7 separate regions of the Homo sapiens genome follow, and all the other regions are reported to be linked to region 1. The links are microRNA targets in miRTarBase. Many come from high-throughput screens and were not tested one by one. Region 1 holds a microRNA gene; each other region holds the end of a gene's coding sequence.
Evidence for each region. Region 1 holds the annotated microRNA hsa-miR-5685 (ACAGCCCAGCAGUUAUCACGGG, at 2,929-2,950, opposite strand). A microRNA usually pairs through its seed, bases 2 to 8, with sites in the 3' UTR of a target mRNA and lowers its output. Matches are read on the target gene's strand: a 7mer-m8 pairs with bases 2 to 8, a 7mer-A1 pairs with bases 2 to 7 and ends in A, and an 8mer does both.

Region 2: miRTarBase lists NHLRC4 as a target of hsa-miR-5685. Seed matches in the 3' UTR shown: 7mer-m8 at 3,465-3,471, 7mer-m8 at 3,140-3,146 and 7mer-m8 at 3,135-3,141.
Region 3: the mRNA of MXRA8 is a reported target of hsa-miR-5685. Seed matches in the 3' UTR shown: 7mer-m8 at 1,123-1,129.
Region 4: miRTarBase lists USP53 as a target of hsa-miR-5685. Seed matches in the 3' UTR shown: 7mer-m8 at 2,292-2,298.
Region 5: the mRNA of CD302 is a reported target of hsa-miR-5685. Seed matches in the 3' UTR shown: 7mer-m8 at 2,933-2,939.
Region 6: the mRNA of NCAPH is a reported target of hsa-miR-5685. Seed matches in the 3' UTR shown: 7mer-A1 at 2,207-2,213 and 7mer-A1 at 2,067-2,073.
Region 7: miRTarBase lists NEURL1 as a target of hsa-miR-5685. Seed matches in the 3' UTR shown: 7mer-m8 at 2,853-2,859 and 7mer-A1 at 2,359-2,365.

The regions. Positions count from the first base shown.
Region 1 is chr6:53,275,877-53,279,951 of GRCh38, reverse strand. MIR5685 (microRNA 5685) reads right to left here and starts at 2,959; the gene lies at 2,881-2,959. It overlaps ELOVL5 (ELOVL fatty acid elongase 5), which reads left to right. Exons shown (of 8, transcript NM_021814.5): 4 at 3,696-3,773.
Region 2 is chr16:567,949-572,023 of GRCh38, reverse strand. NHLRC4 (NHL repeat containing 4) reads right to left here. Exons shown (of 2, transcript NM_001301159.2): 2 at 2,529-4,075. The coding sequence starts at 3,976. The coding sequence ends at 3,605. It overlaps PIGQ (phosphatidylinositol glycan anchor biosynthesis class Q), which reads right to left and starts at 2,056. Exons shown (of 11, transcript NM_004204.5): 1 at 1,928-2,056. RefSeq lists an enhancer at 215-1,109 and silencers at 1,740-1,959, 2,030-2,189.
Region 3 is chr1:1,349,980-1,353,979 of GRCh38, reverse strand. MXRA8 (matrix remodeling associated 8) reads left to right here. Exons shown (of 10, transcript NM_032348.4): 9 at 52-132; 10 at 351-1,289. The coding sequence ends at 376. Among named protein-coding and RNA genes, the nearest start is that of DVL1, 2.6 kb to the right of the region's middle. RefSeq lists an enhancer at 1-483 and a silencer at 3,941-4,000.
Region 4 is chr4:119,292,356-119,296,422 of GRCh38, reverse strand. USP53 (ubiquitin specific peptidase 53) reads right to left here. Exons shown (of 19, transcript NM_001371395.1): 19 at 905-4,067. The coding sequence ends at 3,212. It overlaps ARLN (allregulin), which reads left to right. Exons shown (of 2, transcript NM_001001701.4): 2 at 1-4. Among named protein-coding and RNA genes, the nearest start is that of ARLN, 6.3 kb to the left of the region's middle.
Region 5 is chr2:159,768,310-159,772,384 of GRCh38, reverse strand. CD302 (CD302 molecule) reads left to right here. Exons shown (of 6, transcript NM_014880.5): 6 at 332-3,757. The coding sequence ends at 534. It overlaps MARCHF7 (membrane associated ring-CH-type finger 7), which reads right to left. Exons shown (of 12, transcript NM_001282805.2): 12 at 1,358-4,075. LY75-CD302 (LY75-CD302 readthrough) reads left to right here. Exons shown (of 38, transcript NM_001198760.1): 38 at 332-3,757. The coding sequence ends at 534. Among named protein-coding and RNA genes, the nearest start is that of CD302, 28 kb to the left of the region's middle.
Region 6 is chr2:96,372,891-96,376,965 of GRCh38, reverse strand. It overlaps NCAPH (non-SMC condensin I complex subunit H), which reads right to left. Exons shown (of 18, transcript NM_015341.5): 18 at 1-3,674. The coding sequence ends at 3,615. Among named protein-coding and RNA genes, the nearest start is that of NCAPH, 39 kb to the right of the region's middle.
Region 7 is chr10:103,589,975-103,594,049 of GRCh38, reverse strand. NEURL1 (neuralized E3 ubiquitin protein ligase 1) reads right to left here. Exons shown (of 6, transcript NM_004210.5): 6 at 1,504-3,916. The coding sequence ends at 3,678. It overlaps SH3PXD2A (SH3 and PX domains 2A), which reads left to right. Exons shown (of 15, transcript NM_001394015.1): 15 at 1-23. Among named protein-coding and RNA genes, the nearest start is that of NEURL1-AS1, 75 kb to the right of the region's middle. RefSeq lists an enhancer at 1,344-1,638.

The DNA of each region.
Region 1 (4,075 bases):
CTGTAGTCCACTACCCATGGACACATTGCTATCCTCTGAGGGGGATGGAGGGAGTAGAGCCCTCTACTGCTAGCCCATTTTATGGAGGTTTGATGAGGGTCTTAGGTGAATAAGCTTCAACTCAGGTCCTTGGTCTTGGTTTGTTAAATTATTCTATCCTTTCTGAAGCCAGGGAGATTTGAGAATTTCCATGACCCCATTATGAAATTGATGATGAAGAGTTTTCATCTTGTGAACAGAGTTCAGATGAATATGATCACAAAGTCAAGCCTCGTTTAAAATACTATGAAGCTCTCTTTATTGCTGCACATGAAACATTAGGCCTAGATTTAGGGGAAAGAATTGGCAGTCTTGAACTCTTTGTCATTTGTTTAGCAAATATTTGTTTGACATCTCTGGTACGCTAATCCCTGTGCTGGAATATGTTGATGCAGATGCAGGAGCCACAGTCACCACCCTTCGAAATCTTACAGAAGAGCACACAACAGGCCCATTAACAAAGGGAGCATGTGAGCAAACAGCTACAGGTCACTGCAAGGTGAGGGTAGAGGAAGGAGAATAGACCTCAGGCTCTAGTGCTCAAGGGAGTAATCATGAAGAAAATAGAATTTTAACTGAACTTTGAAGGATAGATAGGATTTTGAGAGCTGGAGATGGGGGTACATAGGTGCAGAGGGCATTCTAGTTGAAAAGAATAAAACAGTGGTCACTGCCAACACTTATGTTTAATCCTATGAACCACATTGGGTGAGACAGGCATTATGTACTTCATGGTGGGAGCCTTATGTTTATCCCATTTGAGGACTGAGAAAACTGAAGTTTAAAATGTTGGAATACCTTAGCTAAGGTCACCTAGCAAAACGTGAAAAAGCTAGGGTTTAATGGGCTAATGCCCAAACCCATGCTCTTTCCCCTTGGCTACTGTGTAGCGGTTAAGGAAGGGCATGTTTGGAGAATGGGAAGAGGTCCAATTTGTGTGCACGTAGGGGAGAAGTGAAAGATAAGCTTGGGACCACGTTGTGGAAGACTAAATACCTGGACACTGCACCTAGGATTCAGGGTTTCATTCTGAAGGCAATGATGACTCACTGGAGGGTTTTAAATATGGAAATATGGAATTCAGTGGTTTGAGGGGCACAGCGGCCCCAGTGGAAGTGTGGTAGGTGTGAGTAGCAGTGGAGGGAGTGTTGCATTGAAGCATGACAGAGCTCCTACAGGGAACCTCAACAGGTGGAAGAGGAATGGTGGGCCTAGGTCAAGTGGAGTGGCACCGAGTGAGCAGCTTCTTGTGTGTATACCTGGTTTATGCTTCAGGAGTGAAAAAAGTTCACCACCCAATACTGAGGTTTGAGTTCTTTAACTAAACTCCAAAGACAACAGGTGTTTTATACATGGATTCCCCTGCCCCATTTATGGGTGGGGAGAGGGCAAATGGAACGTTAGGTTAACTAGTTTAAAGAGTCAAGGCAATCCCACCTGGATCCCTTCTTAAAAAGGAAGCCTGTGTCCAAGAGTCCCTTCTGCTGAGTTAACAAGACCCCTTCAACCCGTTCTCATCTTTGGGATTGAGGCGCCTGCAGAATTACAAGAGAGGATTTGTCCTCCTCTTCTCCAGAGAGCTACCTTGATTTTCCCCACCCCTGCCAAGATAGACATTCATGAATGCAGTCATCCACACCTCCACAAGTGCACACACACCAGCCATCCTATTTTAAAACAGACAAAAGCAAAACCAACCCAGGATGTCTCTGGACACCATAAACCAAAATAGTCGCTGGAAAAAACAGTGATGGTAGGTTCCAGATTTAAGATTCATAAAATGGTAACATTTCCAAAAATATCTCTGATGAAGACAGTCATATGTTAGTACGTTTTTAATTTTGCCAAGAGAGGCTGCTGTTTTAAAAAAGAGGATCTTTTACATTGCACGAATTTATCTTCATGAAAACCTTACTGCGTTGTCCTTATTTTTCTTATTCGCGGTTGTCCCACAAACATTTCATCAAGAAGCACCAGTTTCCTTTCTGTACCCTCAAGCCACAGGAGGTAGTTCCTTGGTTCCCTCCTGGGGTAGAAAGAAGGGCAGCAAAAAGAGCACTGTGCTAAGCTGGCCCTTCCCTCTCCACCCCAGGTCTCAAGAGTGCATGCCAGCTTCCTCCCCCGACCTCCAACGCACTTTGGATTCAGACTTTGTGTCTTGCTTCTTAGGACTTCTGATCAGCCTGCATGGATCCTGCTTGACTGGCCATGACTTTAGAGAGTAGTAGAAGACAGAAAAGTTAATACACCTTCTAATGAATTACCATGTGGGTACTGATCTTTCAAAGATAGTATAGAATAGTTTGTTGTGTGGTCTGTTTTTAAAGTCTGTTAACATGAAGCTACAGAAATTTGGAACAGACCCTTTAGAGATAATTTAGTCCAACCTCATCATTTTATAGTAAAAACAACAAAAGCCCACAGGAATTAGCTGGCTTGCCCCAGGTGCTGGGCCTGGCACTCAAGCCTTCCTCCTAATTCCATGGCTCTTCATCATGAACTGATGCTTCTCCCATGCTAAATCCTTGTGCTCTTCTTTGGCCATGAAAAGCCTGTTAACTCTCAGTGCTTTTTTATGTGTAGAAGGTGACAAAGCAGAAGGAAAATGGCAAGAAGAAAGATAACCAAAGAAAAATCAGATAGAAGGCAGGATACCCAGCGTGAGTGCAGCGGCTACACCCATTTTTTGCCATTTATTTCTGATGTCAGACCAGGTGGAAATATCACAAGGTGTCTTCAGATCCTTGTAATCACCTCTTGTTCCCTGGGGGGGAATCTGTGTTGCTCGCCAAGCTAAACTCTTGTGTTCAAGGACAGGGAACACAAGAATTGGGGTGCAGACTCTACATCACAGCCCTGCAGTTATCACGGGCCCATTGAGGGGAGGGGCCCGTGATAACTGCTGGGCTGTGATGTAGAGCCTGTACCCCAGTTCTGGGGTCCTCTCTGTGACAGCATAGTGCCTACTGTGCTGCAAGTGATTCTGAGGCATGGGCACTTGTGAAGCCTTCAGTTTGTGAAGCCTAATTCATGGATCCGGAGGATTGTACATACAACAACAGGAAATAATGAAGATAAAGTTGGACTAAATTATCCCTGAGCCTACAGCAGTGGTTCTCAAAGTATGGTTTCCACATCAGCAGCATCAGTATCACCTGGACCTTGTTAGACATACAAATTCTAGGCCCCCAGACCTACTGGAACAGAAACACCCCCAGGGACCCATGTTTTACTAACTCACCCCTCAGGTAATTCTGGTGCTGCACACTCAAGTTTGAGGAGCACTGGCTTAGGGAAAGCAGCCAGAGGCTTCTGTGGGGCAGAGCAGGGAGCCTGTGATTGGCTTGGTCTGGGCACTTGTGCTAGGACCAAGGGGGTGACGGGCTGAGGGTTCTGCAGAGAAGCAGCGTGGTAAAGGAAGGTCTCTGAGGGCAGCAGCCTGGGAGTGACTTTTAAGCCCACCCCTTAGGAAATTGAGACTCAAGTCATTAAAGCTTTCCTTTTGTTTACACTTGCCTACAATTGTTTTTTCTCAGAGCAAACTTGGCTCAGCACAGCCCAAGGTAAATTATCACAGATTCTGCAACTAATAAAGTTCAATGAGGACTTTACATGGCTCAGATGCTGTTGGTGACTGGCTCTTTCTTCTTTTTTAGTTAGTAACAGGAGTATGGGAAGGCAAATACAACTTCTTCTGTCAGGGCACACGCACCGCAGGAGAATCAGATATGAAGGTACTGTCTCTTTTTCAGAAACTTTATTATTATAAGTGTTGAGTTTTTAAAAATAAATTGTATAAAATACAAAATGGCCCATAACCTCACTGCCCAGGCAATCCCTGTTGATATTTTTAAAAGAATAAAAAAGGCAATATATACACATCAAATTAAAATTTGAATGTGAAAGGTATAAAATAAAACCTAAAGCATCCCCCTCTGTAAAAATAACTCCGGTTAACAATTGGCAGGAAAAATCACATGCAGTCAGTATGTTATATTTACACAATCAGGATCATAAGAGCAATGTCTTAAATTTT
Region 2 (4,075 bases), not on the chromosome of region 1:
CTAGGGGGAGCTGGTTCTGCGGTGGGCTCACTTTGGGTAAATTCACCGAGCTACGTGCTCACGATCTGTGCGCTTTCTTTGTGTGTATTCTTTGTGCTTCATCTACAAAGTTTACCTTAAAAAAAAAAAGTGCCTTGTGTCTACCGAAGGAGATGGGAGGGCAGAAGCTACTCTTCTCTGTCGAGTAGTGAGAGAAAACTCAACGTACTGTGGGGCAAACGCCCATCACACTCCCACCTCAGCCTCTGGGACGGTCGGCGGCACAAAGAAGCCTGCACTAGCAGCTGCTGGGATCACACAGCCAGAGGAAGATGAAAGAGAAGCGATCGATAGCAGAGGAGGTATGGGACGGGAGAAAGCAACGTGAGCATCTTTAAAGACTGAGGAAACACACACACACACACACACACACGGGCGCCAGGCTAGCCACACACACACACACACACACACACGGGCACCAGGCTAGCCAGACACACACACACACAGGCGCCAGGCTAGCCAGACACACACACACACACACACACACACACACACAGGCTAACCAGACACACACAGGCTAGCCAGACACAAACACACACACACACACACAGGCTAACCAGACACACACAGGCTAGCCAGACACACACACACGGGCACCAGGCTAGCCACGGGTCCCAGGCTAGCCAGACACACACACACACACGGGCACCAGGCTAGCCATGGTTGCCAGGCTAGCCAGACACACACACACACACGGGCGCCAGGCTAGCCACACACACACACACAGGCTAGCCAGACACACACACACACACACAGGCTAACCAGACACACACAGGCTAGCCAGACACACACACACACACACACGGGCGCCAGGCTAGCCACGGGTGCCAGGCTAGCCAGACACACACACACACACACGGGCACCAGGCTAGCCAGACACACACACACACACACACACACACACACACACACACACACACACACACACACACACACACACACACACGGGCGCCAGGCTAGCCAGAAGAGCTTCCTCTGCTAAGAATGAGCCCGAGTGCTCTTGAGAAGCCATTCCCAGACCAGGCAGGTAGGGAGGTCGACCATATAAAGTAGTAAGACTAAGACTTCCCTCTCCTCCCCGTGAATGAGGGAATGGGGGCACCCCAGCCCAGTTAGGACGGGCCAGGGCCATCTCTGGCTGAGCCGCCCCTCCCTGCCACCGCTCCACAAGAGCTCTGGAGAATTTGCGTTTCCCAGCGCCTTGTTTGAAAAATAAACACCAACCTGGCGCGGTGGCTCACGCCTGTAATCCCAGCACTTTGGGAGGCCGAGGCGGGCGGATCACTTGAGGTCAGGAGCTTAAGACCAGCCTCGATGGGGGTGAAACCAAGTCTCTACTAAAAATACAGAAATTAGCCGGGCGTGGTGGTGGGCACCTGTAATCCCAGCTACTGGGGAGGCTGAGGCAGGAGAATCGCTGGAACCCGGGAGGCAGCGGTTGCAGTGACCCGAGATCGCGCCATTGCACTCCAGCCTGGGCGACAGAGCGAGACTCCCTCTCAAAATAAATAAATAATGAAAAACAAACACGAGTTCAGCCTGGGCAACATGGTGAGACCCCGTCTCAAAACAAACAAACAAACAAACTTGCTTGCCTTCCTCAAGCAGGGCCTTCCCCTCTCATTTGGGAAGAGCCTACGATTCCGTTTTTTGCCCTTTCCTGCAAACCGGGACAACTGCGAAGGGCCCACAGCCAGGCCCGGGCCGCCGACCGCCCTTGCACAGGGTCCACAGGGGCCCAGGTCGGCGCGGGCCCGGGGGCGGCCCCACTTCTGGGAGGAGAAAGCAGCGGCGCCGCGGGCGGGAGTGCGGAGCCCCCAGCCCAGGCCCGGAGCCGCAGGGGCGCTGCCCGAGGTCCCGCCGCGCGCCGCCCACCCCCCCTGCTCACCGGGTGCTTCCGGGGCCGCGCGCTCGGGCGGCGGGGTCCGGATGGGGTTGGGGACCCCGATGGGCGGGCCCGGGCAGACGACGGCGCTCGCTGCCTCCAGCCCCGCCGCGGGACCCGAGCCCCACTTCCGCCGGCTCCGCGCGTTGCCGCGCGACGGTCCGGCCCCCAAAGGCGCCCGGGCTGCCCGCCCGCCCGCCCGACCCGAGCGTTCCGCGGCGCAGCGTGCCCGCCCAGTCCCCAGGCCCGGACCTCCCGAGCCTGCCTCCGGGCCGCCAGCCCCGCGTCAGCTCGGTTTCCTCACCTGAGAAACTGACTGGACCTGGCCTTCGTGGAACCCGGACCCCGCCTGGCTCCCAGCCTCCCCAAGTGAACAGGTCCCCAGGCCCTGCGGGATTCCAGGAAGGCCCCAGCCCCAGCCCGGTCCCGCCCCCGTCACTCTGTTGTCTGCAGAGGGGCCGCCCCCAGATCCCCAAGGCCAGTGGTGCCGGGAATTTTGAGCCCTGGTAGGACCAGCCCAGAGGCTGCCGCCAGCGATCGTCAGGAGAGAACACACAGGCGTCCAGCCCCTCCCGATCCCAGGAACAAGACCCCAGCCCAGACCTCAGCGGCAACTCCGTTTATTGAGCACCTAACTACATTGCGCAGTTAGTCCCCCACCCACAGGACCCAGACATATGAGGGACCTCTCAGGGGGGATGTCCTGTGATACAGGGGAGCCCCACCTCCCCACCCCACAGGGGTAGAGCCAGACACCGTCCCCTCCCAGCTCCCTCCCCCATACAGGCCCTTCCCTGGACCCCAGACCCACGGAGTAACCCAGACGCCTCTCCTTTCACGCCTCATTTCCCCACTTGTAAAATGGGAGGAGAGGGTTAGACCCCTATTTTTTCTCAGTTTTCCAAAGCAGCAGGAGTCTCTCCTTGTAGGAAGCTCCCCCAGACCCTCCCAGCACGGCTGCACTGGGAGGACAAACAGCATGGAGCTGTTTGTCCCTGTCTGCAGAATGAAGGCCCAGACAGCTTTCATTCATGGGGACGCGGAAGAAAAGGCATCCAGGGTTCAGCCAGCCATGGGCCTCCAGACACTCCAGGGTTGCCTCCCCCTTACCTCTGCCAGGCCCAGAGAAGCTACTGGAGGCTCAGGACTCTAGGTCCCTCTGAGGTTGGGGACATTTAGGGGCCACACCCCTGCCCCAGGCCGCCCCGCCCAGCCCAGCCCAGCCACACCCTCCCTGCCTGTCTGCCCCCGATTAGGAGGCCTGGGCAGGGGCACCTGGTGGGAGAGTCTGCCTAGCTGTGTGCCGGCAGCTGGCCCAGGATCTCAAGGCTTCAGCTGCCAGCCCCAAAGTCCAGGCACAGGGCCTGAGGGGGTGTGGGGGGCATGAATGCAGGGGCCAGGGCACTGAATGGGGACAGCAGAGAGCAGCCCTGGCTGGGGAGGCTGCAGGCCTGGCAGGGGCAGCCTGGGAAGCAGACTCAGGGCTGCTCCTGAGATCCGGAGCCTCACCAGCAGGAGAACTCGAGCCAAGCCCAGGGCCCAGCCCAGGTGGTGCTGGCATCAGGCAGGCAATGCCCATAGCCTGGAGGCTCCACCCATCCTGAGGGTTCCTCCCGCGGTGATCCAAGGGCCTGGGAGCTGGCCTCAGGCACAGGAGGGCTGCTCCAACCCAGCCTCAGGTCAGGCCAGCTCCTTGAGGCCCTGGTACACCTTGATGGAGTTGTCCTTGGCATCAGCCACCAGGAGCTGGCCCTGGGGTGCACAGGCCACTCCCAAGGGCTGCCCAAGCCCCTCTGACACCAGGCAGATGGGTGGCCCAGCCCGGGGAAACAGGGTCACCTGGCGCCTCTGCTCGTCTGCCACAATAACATTGCCCTCTGAGTTGGAGCAGATGCCCGCTGGGCAGCCGAAAGTGTGCCCCGTCCAGCCCCCCAGGGAGCCCAGGGGTTGGCGGGCACTGCCAAACAGCCTCACATCCCCAAACTCCTCACTCACAGCAAGGCCCCCATCAGGCCCTGGGCCCACCCAGCAGGGGCCCTCCAGACCCAGCATGGAGGCTGGGGCCAGGGGCTCCCAAGCAGGACCCAACGAGAAGCTGTGCACAGCCCCAGGCAAGTAGTCCGTCACCAGGAGGCGGTTGAGGGCATCCAC
Region 3 (4,000 bases), not on the chromosome of region 1:
CTGGGAAGTGCATCCTGGGAGCGGGGACCTCAGCCTCCTCTCCTCCCACAGATTACAAAAACAACATCCTGAAGGAGAGGGCGGAGCTGGCCCACAGCCCCCTGCCTGCCAAGTACATCGACCTAGACAAAGGTGAGCGGCGGGGGCGACCTCAGCCCATCTCAGAGCCCTGCCTGTCCCCATTCCACCTCACCTGGGACCAACGATGGCAGGCACCAGCCAGGCCCGGGGCCCCTGCCACCTCAGGCTCAGAAATCCCTGGGGAGTCCTGCGGGGGGGTCTGCCCTGTGTCTCCCACTGTGATGAGGGTGGAGGACAGCCGCCAACCCGTTGGCGCCCTTGGCTTCCAGGGTTCCGGAAGGAGAACTGCAAATAGGGAGGCCCTGGGCTCCTGGCTGGGCCAGCAGCTGCACCTCTCCTGTCTGTGCTCCTCGGGGCATCTCCTGATGCTCCGGGGCTCACCCCCCTTCCAGCGGCTGGTCCCGCTTTCCTGGAATTTGGCCTGGGCGTATGCAGAGGCCGCCTCCACACCCCTCTCCCAGGGGCTTGGTGGCAGCATAGCCCCCACCCCTGCGGCCTTTGCTCACGGGTGGCCCTGCCCACCCCTGGCACAACCAAAATCCCACTGATGCCCATCATGCCCTCAGACCCTTCTGGGCTCTGCCCGCTGGGGGCCTGAAGACATTCCTGGAGGACACTCCCATCAGAACCTGGCAGCCCCAAAACTGGGGTCAGCCTCAGGGCAGGAGTCCCACTCCTCCAGGGCTCTGCTCGTCGGGGGCTGGGAGATGTTCCTGGAGGAGGACACTCCCATCAGAACTTGGCAGCCTTGAAGTTGGGGTCAGCCTCGGCAGGAGTCCCACTCCTCCTGGGGTGCTGCCTGCCACCGAGAGCTCCCCCACCTGTACCACCATGTGGGACTCCAGGCACCATCTGTTCTCCCCAGGGACCTGCTGACTTGAATGCCAGCCCTTGCTCCTCTGTGTTGCTTTGGGCCACCTGGGGCTGCACCCCTTGCCCTTTCTCTGCCCCATCCCTACCCTAGCCTTGCTCTCAGCCACCTTGATAGTCACTGGGCTCCCTGTGACTTCTGACCCTGACACCCCTCCCTTGGACTCTGCCTGGGCTGGAGTCTAGGGCTGGGGCTACATTTGGCTTCTGTACTGGCTGAGGACAGGGGAGGGAGTGAAGTTGGTTTGGGGTGGCCTGTGTTGCCACTCTCAGCACCCCACATTTGCATCTGCTGGTGGACCTGCCACCATCACAATAAAGTCCCCATCTGATTTTTAGACTTGTCCCAGGTATGCTTCTGAAACTCCGTCTCCTGGGGCTGGGCAAGGCATGAGTCTGGGCCTGGGAGTCCTCGTCTCCACCTGGAACCCCTGACATCATCCCATTCCTTGGGCTGAAAGGTCTGGGTCTGGGTCCTCTGGGAGTCGGTGTCCTGGGAAGGGGACCTTTGAGCTAGTTCTGTGTGGCTTCTGGTCGTGGAGGAGTTCAGATTCCCTTGAGGGCTGACCTGGACGTGAGGAGGGGGGACGTGGTGGTGGCTGTGAGGCCAGAGGGAAGGCCGTGGGAGCACAGCTCTTGGAGAGGCAGAGGGACGAGGAGCGGGAGTAGTGGGATGCGGGTCAGACACTTGCAAAGGGGGCGGGAGCAAAGAGGCTCCAGCAGAGACAGCCCGGGACAGCAGGGTGGTTCCAAGAGTCTTGGCCAGGCCAGCACGGATCTGGCCCTAGAATCCTTTCCCGCTCAGGCATCAGCTGGTTGGGTGCAGGATCTCAGCACAAGTTCAGGCGGTGGGAGGAGTGGCGGGAGCAGGAAGGCCCGTGGCCCGGGGTCCTGGCAGCACAGACCAGCGACTAACTGCTGCTTCTTGAAGCTGGCGTCACCACCCAACCCCATCCTCCAGTCCTCCCAGGACAGTGGGGGTGGGAAAGGGTGACAGTTGCCCACAAGGACCCCACACAAGCATGGATGGGGAGGGAGGGAGGCTGGTCTGGGGAGGTGTGGCTTGAAGATGCACCCCCCTCCCAGCCCGGTTACCTCTGGCCTCACCAGTGGCCACACCTGTCAGGGCCCCAGCTGGACCACATCCGCGTCAGCAACGGGACTGGCCTCAGGCCTCTGGCTTCCAGCCTCTCTTGAGACCTAGCCTGGGGTCAGGCCCTCAGGGCAGGGACAGGCTTCCTCCCTCCCTGGGGCCTCAACAGATAGCCCCTCTTAGGTCTTCCTGCCTGGCTTCTGACCTCTGGGGAAGAGAAGGGCTGCGGGAAGGTGGAGGGGGCTGGCGGCTAAGCTGTCCGGGCTTGGCTGAGCAAACGCCACAGTTCTCCCTCTCAGAGCCCGGGTGCAGGGTCAGGATCCCAGGCCCAAGCTGACCGTCAAGCACTGGTGCCTGCACTGATCGGTTTCTTTCCGAGCCGGTGCAGCCCCCAGCACGGTCAGGGCCCGATAGATGCCAGTTCCATCTCGCCGGCTTCCTGGGGACGGGAACCAAGGGACCCCACCGCACTCTCTTCCCCATCGCTCCAGCCCCGTCCAGGCCCCCTCCTCACTCCCCCCGTCGCTCCTGCCCCGTCCAGGCCCCCTCCTCACTCCCCCCGTCGCTCCTGCCCCGTCCAGGCCCCCTCCTCACTCCCCCCGTCGCTCCTGCCCCGTCCAGGCCCCCTCCTCACTCCCCCCGTCGCTCCTGCCCGGTCCAGGCCCCCTCCTCACTCCCCCCGTCGCTCCTGCCCCGTCCAGGCCCCCTCCTCACTCCCCCCGTCGCTCCTGCCCCGTCCAGGCCCCCTCCTCACTCCCCCCGTCGCTCCAGCCCCGTCCAGGCCCCCTCCTCACTCCCCCCGTCGCTCCTGCCCCGTCCAGGCCCCCTCCTCACTCCCCCCGTCGCTCCTGCCCCGTCCAGGCCCCCTCCTCACTCCCCCCGTCGCTCCTGCCCGGTCCAGGCCCCCTCCTCACTCCCCCCGTCGCTCCTGCCCGGTCCAGGCCCCCTCCTCACTCCCCCCGTCGCTCCTGCCCCGTCCAGGCCCCCTCCTCACTCCCCCCGTCGCTCCTGCCCCGTCCAGGCCCCCTCCTCACTCCCCCCGTCGCTCCTGCCCCGTCCAGGCCCCCTCCTCACTCCCCCCGTCGCTCCTGCCCCGTCCAGGCCCCCTCCTCACTCCCCCCGTCGCTCCTGCCCGGTCCAGGCCCCCTCCTCACTCCCCCCGTCGCTCCTGCCCCGTCCAGGCCCCCTCCTCACTCCCCCCGTCGCTCCTGCCCCGTCCAGGCCCCCTCCTCACTCCCCCCGTCGCTCCTGCCCCGTCCAGGCCCCCTCCTCACTCCCCCCGTCGCTCCTGCCCCGTCCAGGCCCCCTCCTCACTCCCCCCGTCGCTCCTGCCCCGTCCAGGCCCCCTCCTCACTCCCCCCGTCGCTCCTGCCCCGTCCAGGCCCCCTCCTCACTCCCCCCGTCGCTCCTGCCCCGTCCAGGCCCCCTCCTCACTCCCCCCGTCGCTCCTGCCCCGTCCAGGCCCCCTCCTCACTCCCCCCGTCGCTCCTGCCCGGTCCAGGCCCCCTCCTCACTCCCCCCGTCGCTCCTGCCCGGTCCAGGCCCCCTCCTCACTCCCCCCGTCGCTCCAGCCCCGTCCAGGCCCCCTCCTCACTCCCCCCGTCGCTCCTGCCCCGTCCAGGCCCCCTCCTCACTCCCCCCGTCGCTCCTGCCCCGTCCAGGCCCCCTCCTCACTCCCCCCGTCGCTCCTGCCCCGTCCAGGCCCCCTCCTCACTCCCCCCGTCGCTCCTGCCCCGTCCAGGCCCCCTCCTCACTCCCCCCGTCGCTCCTGCCCCGTCCAGGCCCCCTCCTCACTCCCCCCGTCGCTCCTGCCCCGTCCAGGCCCCCTCCTCACTCCCCCCGTCGCTCCTGCCCCGTCCAGGCCCCCTCCTCACTCCCCCCGTCGCTCCTGCCCCGTCCAGGCCCCCTCCTCACTCCCCCCGTCGCTCCTGCCCCGTCCAGGCCCCCTCCTCACTC
Region 4 (4,067 bases), not on the chromosome of region 1:
TATATATCCTGTTGATTCTCTTTCTATGGCAAACCCTGACTTAGTAATATGACATGACTGTAATTGGCATTTTCAAAATGGTGGCAGTATGAAGGCTGAATCTTTCCTATAGGTAAGAAATTGTACCTACCATTAAACTGTGCCATAGCAAGTATAGTGACTGCTTACATTGCCCTCAGTTTGAAGGCTTTTAAGAAGTGGATAAATGGAACGCCAAGAAAAGTTGCAAACTTGCTAAGATAACAAAACAAAAAAGACATCAAAAGAAAATGTGACTTTACTCTGATAAATTCTTTTGTAAATTTCACACCATTTTATATAAAGTGAAATGATTGTTTTAGTAGTTCCTTTTGAAATGAACTGGCTTGTTAGCAGTTGCAAGGGATAGTTTTTAGGGAGCTTAACCTGAACGTTTTAGGATGTAAAGAGCTGCAAATACTCAGTCCGTAAGTGGCATGGGAGTACATTTGGAGACTTCAGCCTGTGAGCTAAGAATATTTTTTACATTTTAAAATGGAGAAAAAAAAAACTTTCATGACATGAAAGTTATATGCAATCTGGATTTCTATGTTGACAAAGTTTTACTGGAAAACAGCCATGCTCATTCATTTACATATTGTTTATGGCTGCTTTCACATTACAAAGGCAGAGTTGAGTAGTTATTACAGAAATATTATGGTCCACAAAGCCTAAATTATTTTCTATCTTTATAGAAAGTTTGCCAACTCCTTTTCTAAGGAGCTGTGCTTTAGACCTTGCTGGAGTTTAACTCCTAGGATCTCCTGTGATAACCGTTTATGATCAGTGAAATTCCAAGTACCCGCGACTTAACATGTCCCAAAATAATCCACGTTGGTGGGAGGGTGACACACAGTTCATGAATGCAAAGAGAAGTCCAATCATATAAACTTAAAAATCAGTTTATCTTAAAATTTTTTTGAATTAGAAGAAATTGATTTCACATGAAAATATAACATTCTGAAGGTAAGTATTTTAAACATTACAACTGTTGGCTGAAATATTTACAAAGTTATAATAAGCTTATAACTGGATGAAAGCATCTATAAAAATAAATAGGCACCCTAGATGTAAAACTTTTACATGAAATAAAATGATTAGTATATATGTATCAATCTGTATCTGGAGTGTTGAATCAACAAAAATAAATGGGCATTTTCTAGTTTGTGTAGTAGTACATGAGTCAGGAGGTTTCAACTGGACAGTACTTAAAAGAGGCAAAACTGGACATTTCTATTTGATATCTACAACTCAACTGAGTTGAAAAGACAAATGTCTGAGACTGCTGTTAAATACAAAAATTAGTTTAAATGTTTCAAATAATACATTTCCAACTCACATCTTAACCAAATAGAAAAAAAAAACTACACAAACTGTGAAAGCTATTAAAAAACTTGAAGCCCATTTTTCTAGTATCTTACAATGTTATAAAAGAAGAAAAACTTTGGTATTTTAAATACAGGTTTACAAACTTTACATTATTTACAAACCCTCCACACTAAAAAATTATGTTAAAAATAAGCTTTCTTAAAACAAAATTAATTTGGCATTCAAGTATTTCTAACTTACGAGAATATAAAGTAATGATCACTCACTATTATAGTTTAAAAAGGCTAGTAAAAACTATAGGCAGAAGATAAAATTTGGCCAAGACTTGGTAACTGGGTGAAGTTAGACTTTTATAAGCAATTATTTTCTGTTTAACAGTATTCACATTAAATTAGTTACAACATTTTAGAATGTTTTAACACGATTTACGCAATCAGTCAAGTGGCTACATTTACTAGTTTATTGAATATGAGGTTTATCCATTTAGCAATGTAAGGAAAACTTTAGTTCTGTTTCTCAGTTATCAGGAGTGAACATAAAACTATTCTAAACCACAATTAGTTTACCAGCATAGTACAAAATAAAATGACAACTAACGAAATAAAGCAATTAAAGTAACTTATTTTTACTCATAAGGTTACCATAATAATAAAAATTCCTTTAATTTTCAAAGCACTCTTCATGAAAAGTAGTTGGGGTAAAATTACTATTTGTTCAAAGTAGAATAAAAGGGAAGGATGCTCTAATTAAACATTTTATTAAAATTAAACTCTCTATATGAAAGGTAGAAATTTAATCTGGAAACCTAGATAGATTTTCAAATTCAGATAAAATGGGTTGACAACCTATAAGCAGGTAATATTACAGCAAAGAAAATGTAGGCAATTACAGTGACATTCCCAATAAGAGGGTGCCCTACATTAATTCCTAACACTGGTGGTTAGCAGCCCAAAGTAAACCAAACCAAAATAAAGACCTTTCACATTTCATATAAAATTAGAAAAAAAGTAACGAGATAAATAAATACACTAAAGTTTAAGTATTTTAACTTTTTAACTTACATGGCTAAAGTAGCATTTATGAATACCTATAATAGTCAAAGGCCTAATTTATCTTAACTAGATATTCTGAAGACAAAAATTCTAGGAGCAAAATTAAATTCCATCCGATCTTGAAAACTTACAAATTGTTAATCATATAAGGCTTTTTTTCCCCAAATGCTATCAAATTCATAAGTCATTTTTTTTAAAGACACTTAAAGGGATCATATGCAGTGACTATCATAGAAGTCAAAAACAAATGGGTGAAGCCCTTTTCTGGTTACCCATTAGAAAGTGCTTCTTCATAAAGCAATTCTTTGACAAAAAAGTACCAGGCTATGTATCACCTGGTACTTTTCAATTAGCATAGTTTATAATCTCCATACATGAGTACTGGTTAGTTTAATACTTCCCAGTCTACTGGCCACAAAATAGGGGGACAAATTTAATTTTTATTCAACTGTAGCATATGACAAATGAATTATTATATCTCCCTGATTTTCTATTTTTCACGGCACGCCAAGACTATTCAAAGGGAATTTCTAAAATATCTAAGATATTGATCATAAAATTATATATGTGTATACACATATACACATACATATGTATAGTGATTAACAACTTTAAAAATGCCACAGGCTTTAATTTTATGTATCACTAGGTTTGGTCAGTAGGTTCCTATTATATTTAAATGGCCTCTGAGAAGTAAAAGTTGGTCAGTTTTACCAGTTATCTATTACAATGTATGCTAGGTTTATATCTTTGTTCAGAAGGGCAGCTTGAACCAAGATTATTATGTAACACAGGTCTAGTCCTTTTTCACTCTAAGATAGTGAATTATTACAAAAGCCACTGCTCTCTGGAAAAGAGAGCTTGGGCCTCTGATGGTATTTCAATCTATATGTATCCGTCATGCAGCTATCAACTGAAAAATAGGTAGTTAATGAAACTGTCTCATTTGGACAGGTAGAAATAGAGTCTAGTTCTGGTTGGCAAAATGCATCAATGGCACCTGAGTTTGCCTGAAAATCGTTAGTTGAGGAGCTGGATGGACAGTTTGGTGTGTTGCCAAAACATTCTCTCACTTGAAATGTTTCTTTATGTCTTTCATCATTCATATGTGTACTCACTTCTAAACTTGGTTCTGAAGCTGTACTTAAACTGTGCTTCGGAAGATGAGAGGTAGCTTTAAACACCTCTGTAAGTTTGACATCAGGTGTAGATTCGCTTTTCTCTGACTGTGGCACACTGGTTATAGCATATTTCTTTGGTGGCAAAGGGGGTGGTAGATTCTGGCAAAAAAGTTTTGGCATCTGACACCCATCAGATCTGCTGGCTGACCGAATTATACATTCTGTGGATAGAGAGTTCTCAAAGTAACATTGATCCATGATATTTTGTTGCTGGATGAGAGGAGCAGTTTCTGGCTTTAACCCAACAGTTCTTAGGTGTGAAGACCATAATGAAGATGGTTCATTACTGTTCACTCTCTTCCCAGAAGCAGAGTTATCAACGTGAAAAGGCAAACCTGTTCTCTCAGAATTTTCTATATTAAGCCACTCAGAAAATTTGCATTCATTCGGTTTTTCAAGTTTCTGTTCATCTGACTGGTGGATATGTTCTCTTGCATTATGGTCCTTGGGTATTTGTAGACTGGATGAAGGAAATAACTTTCCATTG
Region 5 (4,075 bases), not on the chromosome of region 1:
GAACAGTAGGTCTGAATTTGTAGTCTTAGATCAGAAAGTAAAGCGAAGGAAGACAAACTGGAGCATGGTATATACTTGCGTGATTTCCACTATGGGGTCTTCAGTAGAGTGGAGAAGTGCACAACTTCCTAGAAAATTTGAGTACTATTCTTCAGGCTAAGAAATATAAATCTTGTTAGTAACAAATGCGAAATTTTTGGTTTTCTCATCAGTGTGGGAAATTCTCAACACAGAGAAATGTTTACACAAAACTACAGTTGTGCTCATCAAAATATACTTGCAACTTGTGTACCCTAATTTCCCAAATACTCTTTTGTCTTTTCCTTTTCAGATAACCACATTTTAATATCAGCATTGGTGATTGCTAGCACGGTAATTTTGACAGTTTTGGGAGCAATCATTTGGTTCCTGTACAAAAAACATTCTGATTCTCGTTTCACCACAGTTTTTTCAACCGCACCCCAATCACCTTATAATGAAGACTGTGTTTTGGTAGTTGGAGAAGAAAATGAATATCCTGTTCAATTTGACTAAGTTTTTGGTAATCTTGCACTAAGACATCAACAAAATGCCCTGGCAGAGATAACTTGGGAAAGATTTTAATATAAAACTTGACATTGGATATTAGAGCTTTAATGGTATTCCTTATTCCAGTAACATTTTTATGTACTCATCTGCTGTGAAAAGTCTTTAGGTTCATTAAAAAAACAGGTTTTAGAAATGATCTTAGATCTAATATAGTGATTTTAAGCATCCCGTCAAAGGCAGAATCTGTCACTTGAATGAAGGAAAGCTTAAAGCCCAAGCAGATAAAAATAAAAGCCCAGCCTATTTGTCTTGCCTGCTGTATCTTCCCTATTTAGTTGACCCACTTTAGTTTATATGTTTATTAGTAAACATGAAATGGGGAATAAGTGATTTTAAGTACATCCCATACATTTAAATATCTTTGATAATTGTTATTTTTTTGGCAGATAATTCCTCTAGAATGTGTATCTTTTTATGATTTAGATGAAGAAAATTTTACAACTTTTAACACCCCACACCAATTTTAGTTTCATTACTTTTACACACACCATTTTATCACAAATGACTCAAGTTTTAATGAATGTTTATAAATTATTTGAAACAAAATATGATCGCTGTGTCCAGGATGGCATAGAGAAAGCTGGCAATTAGGTTAACACTTACATATTATAGTGCCCCTTTAAGGATTTCTCTCTTGCCACCATACCTTTTGTACTTTCCCCTATACAAGATGTATCTCATTCTCCTCAAGCATTTATAAATTTTTCCTTCAATGACATGAAAACTGTGCAAGCAAAAACCGAAGAAAAACACTTAAGTACAACTGTAGTGACAGTGATCAAAGTTTTCAGTGCATTTATTGTACATTTTAAGAAAAAGGTGAAAATCATTTGGGGAGTAAAAAAATGAAAAAGCTGAAACGAGTAATTTTCCTCACCATCAATAAACCAAAAACAGGAAAGATAAAGAATGTATAAATTTCACGTAAATTAGTCACGTATCACTTATCAATGGGGATACGTTCTAAGAAATGCATAGTTAGGGAATCTTGTGTGAAAATCAGCTTGTATTTACACAAACCCAGATGGTAGAGCCTATTTTGTCCCAAACCTACACAGCATGTTACTGTGCTGAATACTGCAGACAATTGTAACACAATATTTGTGTATCTAAATATAGAAAAGGTACAGTAAAAATATGGTCTACTAAGGAAACACTGTTCTATATGTGGTCCATTACTGACTGAAGTATACTGTCTAGAAGTCTGAGGCTCAAAGAAAAGTAATCCCTCTTCTGAATCCACACCCCATCAATTATCTTACTTTCTTCTGGGGAGATAGATAGATATACTATCTCACTAGCTTGACTAATGGCAACAAAGTTCCAGCTTGTGTAGTCTCTTTTTATTGACCACATGAATCGAAAACACTCATCACAATTAATGGCACTATCATTAATGAGACATGAGTAACTAAAAAGTGATAGAAAACTATTAACAGTGCGGCTACATGGTACTGAAAATGCAGGCATTACACCAGCTGTTACACAAGCACAAGCATGCTCTGTAAGAGCTTTACATTTCTGAGATTTTGTATAGTGATTGAGATGTCTATTTTATTATTGATAGACTATTACTAATGTCAATATTGAACACTACCCTGGAATTCCTGCCTGGTTTTCCTACCCAAATTGTACCACTCCTTGAAGAACTACAGGCACAGTAAAAAAAATATGGCGTATTATGTGAACTAAAAGAGTTCTAAAGGAGTTCTTAAAGGAGTGGTAGAATTTGGGTAGGAAAGTGATTAAGTCCAACTTAAAACCAACAGTCTCAAACGTCTACAACTACAATGTCCAATGAGCCACTAGCCACATGAGGCTATTTAAGTAAATTTAGTTTAAAATCCAGTTTTCGAATTACATTAGCCACATTGTCAAGTGTTCAAATCACAGGTGGTTAGTGGCTACTGTACTGGGCAACATACATTATAGAACATTTTCATTATAGGAAGTTTTATTGGGCAGTGCTGCTCTTAAATCCTACCTTCCACTCAACTCCCATACAACTTTCTTTTGTACATTTTGATACTTTCTACCTAATGGCAGCTCTTCCAAAATAGCTGCTTTAAACTCTGATTTAATTTTCAATATTTGGTTTCATTTTTCAACAGGCCAAGAGGCCTCTGGTAATGAAGTGCTATATATATATATATGATGGAGTCTCACTGTGCTGCCCAGGCTACAGTGCAGTGGCTCGATCTTGGCTCTCTCCAATCTCCGCCTTGCAGGTTTTCAAGCAATTCTCCTGCCTCAGCCTCCTTAGTAGCTGGGACCACAGACATCTGTCACCACACCCAGCTAACTTTTTGTATTTTTGGTAGAGACGGGGTTTCGCCATATTGACTGGGCTGGTCTCAAACTCCTGACCTCAAGTGATCCACCCACCTTGGTCTCCCAAAGTGCTGGGATTACATGCGTGAGCCACCACACTTGGCCTACATTTTTTCTTTATATACCAGAACATCTATAACAGGCACCTTATCTACTCATTAGTGAAGAGATAATTGGATTACACAGGCAGGCTTGTTTACTACATCCAGAATGTAGAAACTGCTTTCTTCAACATCTTGGTTCTAGCTAGTAATAACAATATAATTCTTTGGCAGATATTCAGAATAACATTTTAAACTACATTTTCTTAGAAAATTGCATTCTTGTAGTGAGCAGTGTATGGTCTCTTTTGTTCAGAATTTAAAACTGATAACCAATGAAAGCCTTTTCTCTTATTCCTCTACCGTCATTTACATGATAATCTGAAGCTAATATGACAATATTTAAATACTAAGTGGTACTAGGGAACTACAAGAATACTGTAAAGCTTAAGCCATTGTTATCACTGTCATTTAGCATTTAATAACAAAACTATACAGAATTATGTGCATACCAATGAATGTTTTGTACCATCTAGTTAAATTTTTTAAATAAAGTTTTATGGGTTAAGCAGAAGACAACTGTCATACTGAATTTTATTAAAAGTATATATACTTCAAATTCAAAGCATCCCTTAGGACCCACAGAATATATTAAAACTACCACCCTTAAATTTTATATTTTTGCTTTAAGACAGACAATGCAAAGGTAACTGGCAAGAGGTGAGCAAATGTTTTAGAACATTTATATTATTGCTTAAAATGAGATTTGAAATTGTAATAAAATTCTTGGTTATGAAGTCTGATGTCTTCTTTGAGCACCAGTTTAAAAGGAAACATTTCAAACAGTAAAATAAATCAGTGTGTACTTTATTTTGAGCCAATGTTTTACATAAGACCAACAAACTAAGTGTGGGCAAACTGTTCAATCACTTTTGAGAAATTACATGGTTCCTATTTAGGTTTGAAAAAGTAGTTTGTTGCCATAACATCAGACCTTAAGGTGTTTTAAAGTGTATCCTAAGGGTACTGACAGAAGAAAAATACAGTGTTATGGAAGTATACACAACTCATGACCACACAGTATAGATCCATTCATGGTGAATAATGTTCATCTG
Region 6 (4,075 bases), not on the chromosome of region 1:
GGGGTATCCATCCCCTCAGGCATTTACTCTTTTCAATTACATTCTTTATTTTAAAATATACAATTGTTATTATTGACTATAGTCACCCTATTGTGCTATCAAATAGTAGATCTTATTCATTTTTTTTTCTTTTGGTACCCATAAATGATCCCCAATTCCCCCAAAAAACATTTTTAAATGAACCAAAACTGAGAATTCTACTCGAAGACCTAGATCATGGCTTGCTGCCTCAGTGCTGAGCAGCTTGGCTTCAGCCACCATGAACGGTTCCTTTCCTTGCTCCAGGACACCAAACTCGTTGCCGCAGATGCTGCAAATCCTTGTGGTGTTGAAATGACCCAGTATCCTGTGCTAAGAAGGGGAACAATGCCCCACTCTGCCTGTGATCCACTATAGTTGCACCACAGCAGAATTTCTAGGGCACCAAAGTGTTACCTGCAGCCTTTTGCTCCCCAGGGGGATCATACACTGTAGGGTGGTCTGGCCAGGGAAGTGCACCTAGCTGTACCATACTTTACTGGGAACTACAAACCCCCTTCAGATATCTGTCCTTGTTCAATTCAATTTGTAATGCCTGGTTCCCTCTTCCTTTGGATGTATTCTCTCTCAGGGCCCCACAATTCTCTCTTGCAAATTGCCCTCTCTTGCAAATTGCAAATTGCCCCTCTCTTGCAAATTGCAATTCCCTCTTGCAAATTGCAAATTCTATCTTGCAAATTCTCCTGCCCTTAAATTCTGGTTCTGTTTGGCAGAGAATGTTAAAACTTCAGTTATGGACATGGTATACGCTCTTATCTCAGGAGGCTTCTCAGCATCTGAGGCAGATACTGCTGGCTACCTCAAATTTTCTTTTAACCTTAACAGAACCCAAATTTTTAGCTGGACACATTACCACTTGTATTAGTTTGTTTTCTGTTACCTATAACAGAATACCTGAAACTGGGTAACTGACAAAGGAATTTATTACAGTTATGGAGGCTGAAAAGTCCCAGGTTGAGTCCATATCTGGTGGGAGCCTTCTTGCTGGTGGGGACCTTTGTGGCACCCTGAGGTGGCAAATATTCATATCGACCCCCAGGAAACTGATTTAACAGGGAGCAGCAGTTCTCTTTTCCCCCAGTCCTTCGTCCTGCTGCTTAGACTATGGATGTGATGGCTGGATTCCAGCAGCCACACTGAAACAGAAGGATGAGCTGGAAGGATCCCCGGTCTCTCATAATTTCATGGAACTGTCACACCAGTCCTAGAACACCTACTTCCCAAAGTATTTTATATAAAATAAACTTATCTTGCATACCCACTGTCTTAGTCAATTTGTCTGCTATAACAAAATGACTTAGACTGCTTAATTTATAAACAATAGATTTATTGTTCACAGTTCTAGAGGCTGAGAAGTCCAAGATCAAGACGCCGGCAGATTTGCTGTCTGGTGAGGGGCTCCTTGCTCACAGATGGTGCCTTCTCATTGCATCCTTACATGGCAGAAGGGCAAGAGGAACGAACAAGCTTCCTCAGGCCTCTTTTATAAGAGCACTAATCCCATTCACGAGGGATCTGCCCTCATAACCTAATCACCTCCCAAAGGCCCTATCTCTTAATACCAACATGTGAATTTTAGACACAAACATTCAGACCACAGCACACATAGCCCACAGCAACCATGTAATGAGGGAAACTTAGGAGAAGCAGGGTTGTGGGGGGAAGGGGATTTCATTGTAGAAGTTGGTATTGAACTCGCCAGTTTTTTTTTTTGTTTAAGAGATAGGATCTCACTCTGTTGTCCTGGCTGGAATGCAGTAGTGTGATCACAGCTCACTGCAGCCTCAAACTCCTGGGCTCAAGTGATTATCCCACCTCAGCCTTCTGAGTAGCTGGGATTACAGGCACACACCTCCGTACCTGGCTAATTTTTAAACTTTTTTTTTAAAGATGGGGTTCTATTTTGCCCAGGCTGGTCTTGAACTCCTGACTTCAAGCAATCCTCCTGCCTCTTCCTTTCAAAGCGCTAGGATTTACAGGTGTGGGCCACTGCACTTGGTCCCAATCTTTCTAGTTTTACTGGTAATTCAGCCCCCCACCCCCAGAACCCACTATAGAGAAGTGGGGCTGACTGAGGGAAGGAATGGGCTTAGCCAGTTCTACTCTCAGGAATAGAAGGAAAGCAAGAAGCCCAGCACTAACCTGGCCTGGGAAAGTGATGGAGGCTTCAGCCCCAGCAAGACAGAGTGTGGAGTCTCACCTGTGGCACCACTGCTTTTTCTAAGCATGCTCTGAAGTCTCTAACCTTCTCAATATAACAGAGCAGGTAATGTTTTGGACACAATTTGGAAAGCATATTCCTGTGGGGAGGGGATTATTTTTGTTTTGTGTGGTTTTTGGCTAAGAAGGAAGTTATTATCAGGAGCAATTTCCAATTATATACTTCACTGCTTCTGGCCTATATCCAAGATCTCTATTTAGCCAGTCAATGATGACGGGTGTTCTGGCAGAGATCCAGGACCAGCCAGTAACAGAACTACTTGGATCAACATCTATAATATTGTTCCAAATTGCAAGCAAAGTTAATTCCCCTATTCCTCTGAGGTTAGGGGAAGAACTTGTACATTTGTGTGTGTGCTGCATTCTGTGGAGATGGACAAATCTGAGCACTGCTCTCCACCCACTGCTGAGCCTGTATGACCTATCCAGGTAGCACATAGCACAATGGCCGAGAGCAGACTCTGGAGGCAGATTGCCAGGCTCAGGCCACCCCTGACAGTTTGCCGGCTGCCCTTTTGCAAGTTCCTCTACCTTGGGTGTCCGTTTCCTCCTCCAACATGAGAGTCACAATAGTAAGTTTCTCCTAGGGATGCTGAGAAGGCTACATGAAGCAATGTACAGAAGGGACAAGTATCACTATCAGCTCCCTCCAGCAGAATCCTGGGATTTAAGCAGGACCCAGTCTTGCATCTGAATGTCCAGTCAGCAATCTCTCTCTTCCATTCTCCTCCGAGGCAAACCATCTTGGCCCTTAGGCATCTTCTGCCTTATACTGACAGGTGTGTATCCTGGATAACAACCAGGACTGCATCCCCCTAAGGGTAAGGACTAGGTCTGATACTCATCTAGTGGACACTCAAATATTTTGCCAGTTCTATTATTAAGAATTTTATTTTTGAGCATTCTATATACATTTATAAGTGTACATATGATGTATTTTATGTACATGGATTAGGAAGTTCTTCAAGGGCACCATTAAGTGCCCACTGGAAAATTTTCTACAAGAGAATAGTTTGGAAAATAACAGATCAATTTAGGAGACTAAAACTATACATTGATATAAAGAATGGATATAGGTTTTCTCAATCCAGAATAGTACCCTCACCCCCTCTGCCCTCCCCTCTCCTAGATGGTCACCATAGGGCAGTAAAGTTTAATCAGTTGAGCACGGAGCTTCAGGGCGCTGGCACCCAGACTATGATGGAGAGAAGGAAAGAGCAACAAACAAACAGGCACGTTGGTAGTTGGCTACAGCCTGGGTATAAGCCCATGGCATCTTCTTCCCCCGAGACTGGGGATGTCCCGGCAACTGAGTAAGGGATGGGCCTCCTGCTGCTGACTTCTCCATAGTGAACTCAATCTCCTTGCCTCACAAGAACATCAGAGAGGTCCTCTGTTCCTTCCAGTTTTAGATTCTGAGGGAAGACCAAAACATGCATGGACTTTGGTATACGGAGAATAAAAGAATCATAAATTCCAATCACAGTCACAAGGTAGTGACTACAAAGAAGAAAGTTTGTCCCATGATTATAAGAAAAACTGTTTCATAGCAAGTATAATTTGCATGAAAAACCTGATTCCCAATCCTTGTTATAACAAAATGACTTAGGTGAAAAAGCAAAAAGCAAGCCTTCTCTGGCTCTGATTCCTGCAACCCACCCCCTATAAAGGGCCTAAGAGCTGAGCCGTCTGCCCTGAAGATGCTAATGGAGGCAGATGGGAGGTCATGAGGAGCCACAACACATACATATAGTCAGTCGTCCCCCCTTATCCTCGAGGGGTGTTCCAAGGCCCCCGGTGGATGCCTGAACTCATA
Region 7 (4,075 bases), not on the chromosome of region 1:
AGTTTTGGGCCTTTTTAACCGAACGGAATCACCTCTTAATTCTCCCTGTCACCAAAAACACCCATCCAGCTGAACAGCCAATGTCCCATTATCCCAAATTGCAAAGTGGACTTCAGGATCCCAGGGCCCTCTGAAAGAAAGGACACTGGAGGGTGGGGGCAGGTAGGTAAGCTCTCGCTTTTTTTTTTTTTTTTAACAGGGTCTCACCCTGTCACCCAGGCTGGAGTGCAGTAGCATGATCATAGGTCACTGCAACCTCGACCTCCCTTACTCAAGCGATCCTCCCACCTCAGCCTCCTGAGTAGTTGGGACTACAGGCGCACCACCATGCCCAGATGATTTTTCTATTATTTGTAGAGACAGGTTCTTGCTATGTTGCCAAGGCTGGTCTCAAGCTCCTGGGCTCAAGCAATCCTCCTGCCTCAGCCTCCCAAAGTCTGGGATTACAGACATGAGCCAGCTCTCACTCTTGGTGAGAGCTGTGGTCAAGCTCCTCCAGCCTCTTCCCCACTTTTGGGAGGCTTTCTGGGCAGTGGCCAAGGCTTTGAAAGATGCAGATCTTGGGGCCAAGGACCCACATCCAGCAGGCCTAGCTGGCTCCTTAGCATGGCCCCCCGACCCTCTCCTGCTTTTGCTGGACCCCAGTAAGCAGGACCAGGTAACCCTGATGCAAGGAACAGGCCATGGCTGTGCAAGGCCATGCAGAGGCTGGGTAGCCTGAGCATCCTCCCTGGAACAGGATGGGCAGGCAGGTATCCCATGTGCCTCTGAGGCCTGGTGCTGCCAAATGAGCTCAATTCCAACACTGTGCCTAGACCTTGGGGCCAGTCTGGCTGCCTCCTCCCCACCACCCCTCTCCCCTCAGCCTTCCCCACCACTCGGATCACTTAGCGCATCTAGAACACTTCTCTAAAGGACTCTATCCAGAGGCTTCCCTTTTCTCCTCAGTGGCACCACCCATTTGGTATAGGCCTCTGCACCCACCAGTGGGAACACAGCTGAACTCCCTCCAGATGTGGGGGTCTGAGCCTGGGGAGAGGGGTGGAAGCCTTGTTCCTGGGGAGCTCAGAGCACAGCCCCTGATGACCTGAGTTGACCACTTGTCATCCTCCCATTAGCCCCCTAGGTGGCACTGCGCACCCCCCTACAAGCGGCAGATTTGAGCCCTGCTCAGCCTTAAGGAGAAGCCCCATCCCAGGGCACCTTCCCCACCACACCCTGCTCCTCACAGATGCAGTAGCCTCTCCCAATTTGCAAGGCTCACCTGGCATTCTAGACCCAAGTCACGCTCCAGCCCCCGACTCCAGGGAGTCTTCCCTGATTGCCCCAGCCCACCTTGAAGCCTCAGAGGCCTGCAATTACCCCTCAGGGAAGGGCCACAGCTCCTGATGACTCCCCTAGTATCCAGGACACCAGGCCTCCACACCCCAGCCTGCCCCCACATGTGCACGCACACGCTGGCCCTCCTTCCCCAGTGCTCTGCGCACAGCACCGCCCTCAGGCTGGTACGAAATCACTTTTATTCACAATCACAGCGACCCAAGTGCACAAGGGAAGCAGCAGCCACCCCTGCACTGACAGAGGTAATGAGATGATGGCTTCCTCTCCCCAACCCTCAGCCTCTGGGATCCCTGGCTGGGGGGCCCGCTAGCCAGCCCCCGCTCCCTCCCACACAGAAGGGGTCTCCCAGGGTCAGTGACTGGGTAGTGGAGACCCATAGTGGGACAGTGACTTCCCCACACACCCACTGCAAGGCCAGCACAAAGGCCCAGCCTGAGGTCCTGGCACACCACCCCCTGGCAGCCCTCACGGAAGAACTCCCGAGTCACACAGAAAGCCTGCCCCTCTCTCCCGAAACAACCATTTTATAGAAATGGAAGCTGGGCTCCAGGGGGCTACGACTCGGCCAGGGCCACACAGCTGGTCAGTGGCCAGGACTAAAACCCATGCCCTGCCTGCCACACAGAGGTGCAGTCTCTGATGGATGCAAAAAAAAACAAAAACAAAAAGCCATCTGAGGGGGCAGAGGGCTGGGAGGCTGGGAGAGCCCAGGCCAGGGCAGGCAGGGCTGAGAGGACCGACCTCAGCAGGTGGGGCGCTCCCTCCCCAGAACTTAGAGAACCTGGAGGTGTGAGAGGCAGCCCTTGCCTCCTCATCTTCCCTACGAACAGGCTCCCTGCCCCGCCATCACAAGGTCTCCCTGTCCTGTTCCTGGCCCACACTAGGAACACTGGCCCTCCTGGAAGTTTGACGTCCTTATGGAGGGGGGACCTCCTGGGCCACCTGAGGTACCTAAGCCAACCATGATAACCCAGCTCTGGCCCAGGAGGAAGGGTGCTCTATGGCTCTGGGTGACCATCAGCCCCAGGGCACTAAGGAGGCTTGGTTTGCCTCTCTGTAAAATAGACACTGTTTGCCAAAAGGCCTCCCAATTTGGCCCCTCCTTATGGAGTTCCAGTTCATGATTGGTAGGGCTGGGTATGAGCTTTGTGGCTGGAGTCAGGGGAAGATACTGCATTATGACTGCCTCAGCCACACCCTTTCCCAGGTACCCCACACACAAAGGCAGCATTTCTAGGGGCCCAGAGGATGGGAACTCACCTACAAACAAACAAACAAAAAAAACCCAAAACCACAAACCAAATAAATAAATTAATTAAACTGAGGAAAAAGGCTGGTCTTGGCCCAGGGAACCCACACCTCCCCACCCAGGGCCCTGGCCCATCCCAGGTGTGCCACAGGCTCTGACTATCAGCCTAGGCCCTGGACAGCACAAGATATGGGGAAAAGGTCAGAGAGGGTAGCTGCAAACCTGTTCTTAGGGACCCTGGCAGAAGACCAACCCTTCTCCCCAGCCCATACCGAAGGGCTACCCCTGGGCAATGGCATCCAGCGAGATGATTGGGGCAGGAAGGCTACAGCCAGGACAGGATCCTCCCCTTCTCAGCCAGGGGCCCAGAACCTGGAGCCCTCTGCAGCCTGTCCATGTGCCCATCAGGTAGTGGGAGAGAGACATGGCATGAGGCTGCAGCCTGCCCAGGACGGGAGGCAACCACCAGCCTCTCACCCCCAGCTGCCATGCCCAGTGGGCAGGGAACGAAGAAAGAGAAGGTAGGCATAGGTCAGAGAGGGAGACAGCAGCTCAGGAGCGGCCTGCCCAGGGCGGTTGTTGAGCAGGCTGTACACTGCTCAAGGGCAGTTGGCTGAGAGGGCAAATGAGCCTAAAATCCACTCCATGCTGCACTAGCCAGGCCACATGTCCTGGCTCAGGGCTGCAGCTGCCCAGAGGAAGGTACATGTTTTCTAATTCTCACAAAGGTGCCACATGGACTACAGACACCTCCTAGAAACCTGCCTCAGATGGGGAAAGATTAGGGCAGGCTGAGATCCCAATTTAGCCCTCAGCATGCAGAGAGGAGCTGGGTGCAGAGACGGGAGAGACAGGGAGAGTGCGGCCTCCTCTCCTCCCCTCCCTCTGCCCGGTGATTTGCCTCTGCCCCCTCCCTGCCTGATACCCCCCTCTCCCCAAACCTTCAAGGGCTTCAGTTTCCCATGTTTAATAGAGGAGGAAAAGTTTCCAAAATGAGGAAGAGAAGGGGCCCCACTGGCTTGTTCCTCAGCTGGGACTGGGCTGAAGCCCGAGAAGATGGGTATGCGGGATGGGCCACCGCAACGGGCTAGGAGCTGCGGTAGGTCTTGATGATGTCCTTGATGGGGCGGCGGCAGATGGGGCAGCAGGCGTGCAGAGCCTTCTTGAGGCGCAGGCCACAGGCGTAGCAGAGGCACATGTGGCCACATGTGTAGATGACCGTGTCCACCGCGTGTTCATAGCAAATGGTGCACTCATCGCTCCACTGGCCCAGACCTGGGGTCACTGGCGACTCGGGCAGGCTCACTGGCGAATTGGGGGCTGTCCCTGAGGACAAGGGGGCACCAGTCAGGAGGAGACATGGCCCAACCCGGCGCTGGATTCACGGGAAGAGAGCTCCCCGGCCTCTTGTGTCCCCCTCCATTTATCAGGATCTGCCTGTTCACCCTGACAACCCAACTTCCAGGGCACAAGGGAAGAGGCTGA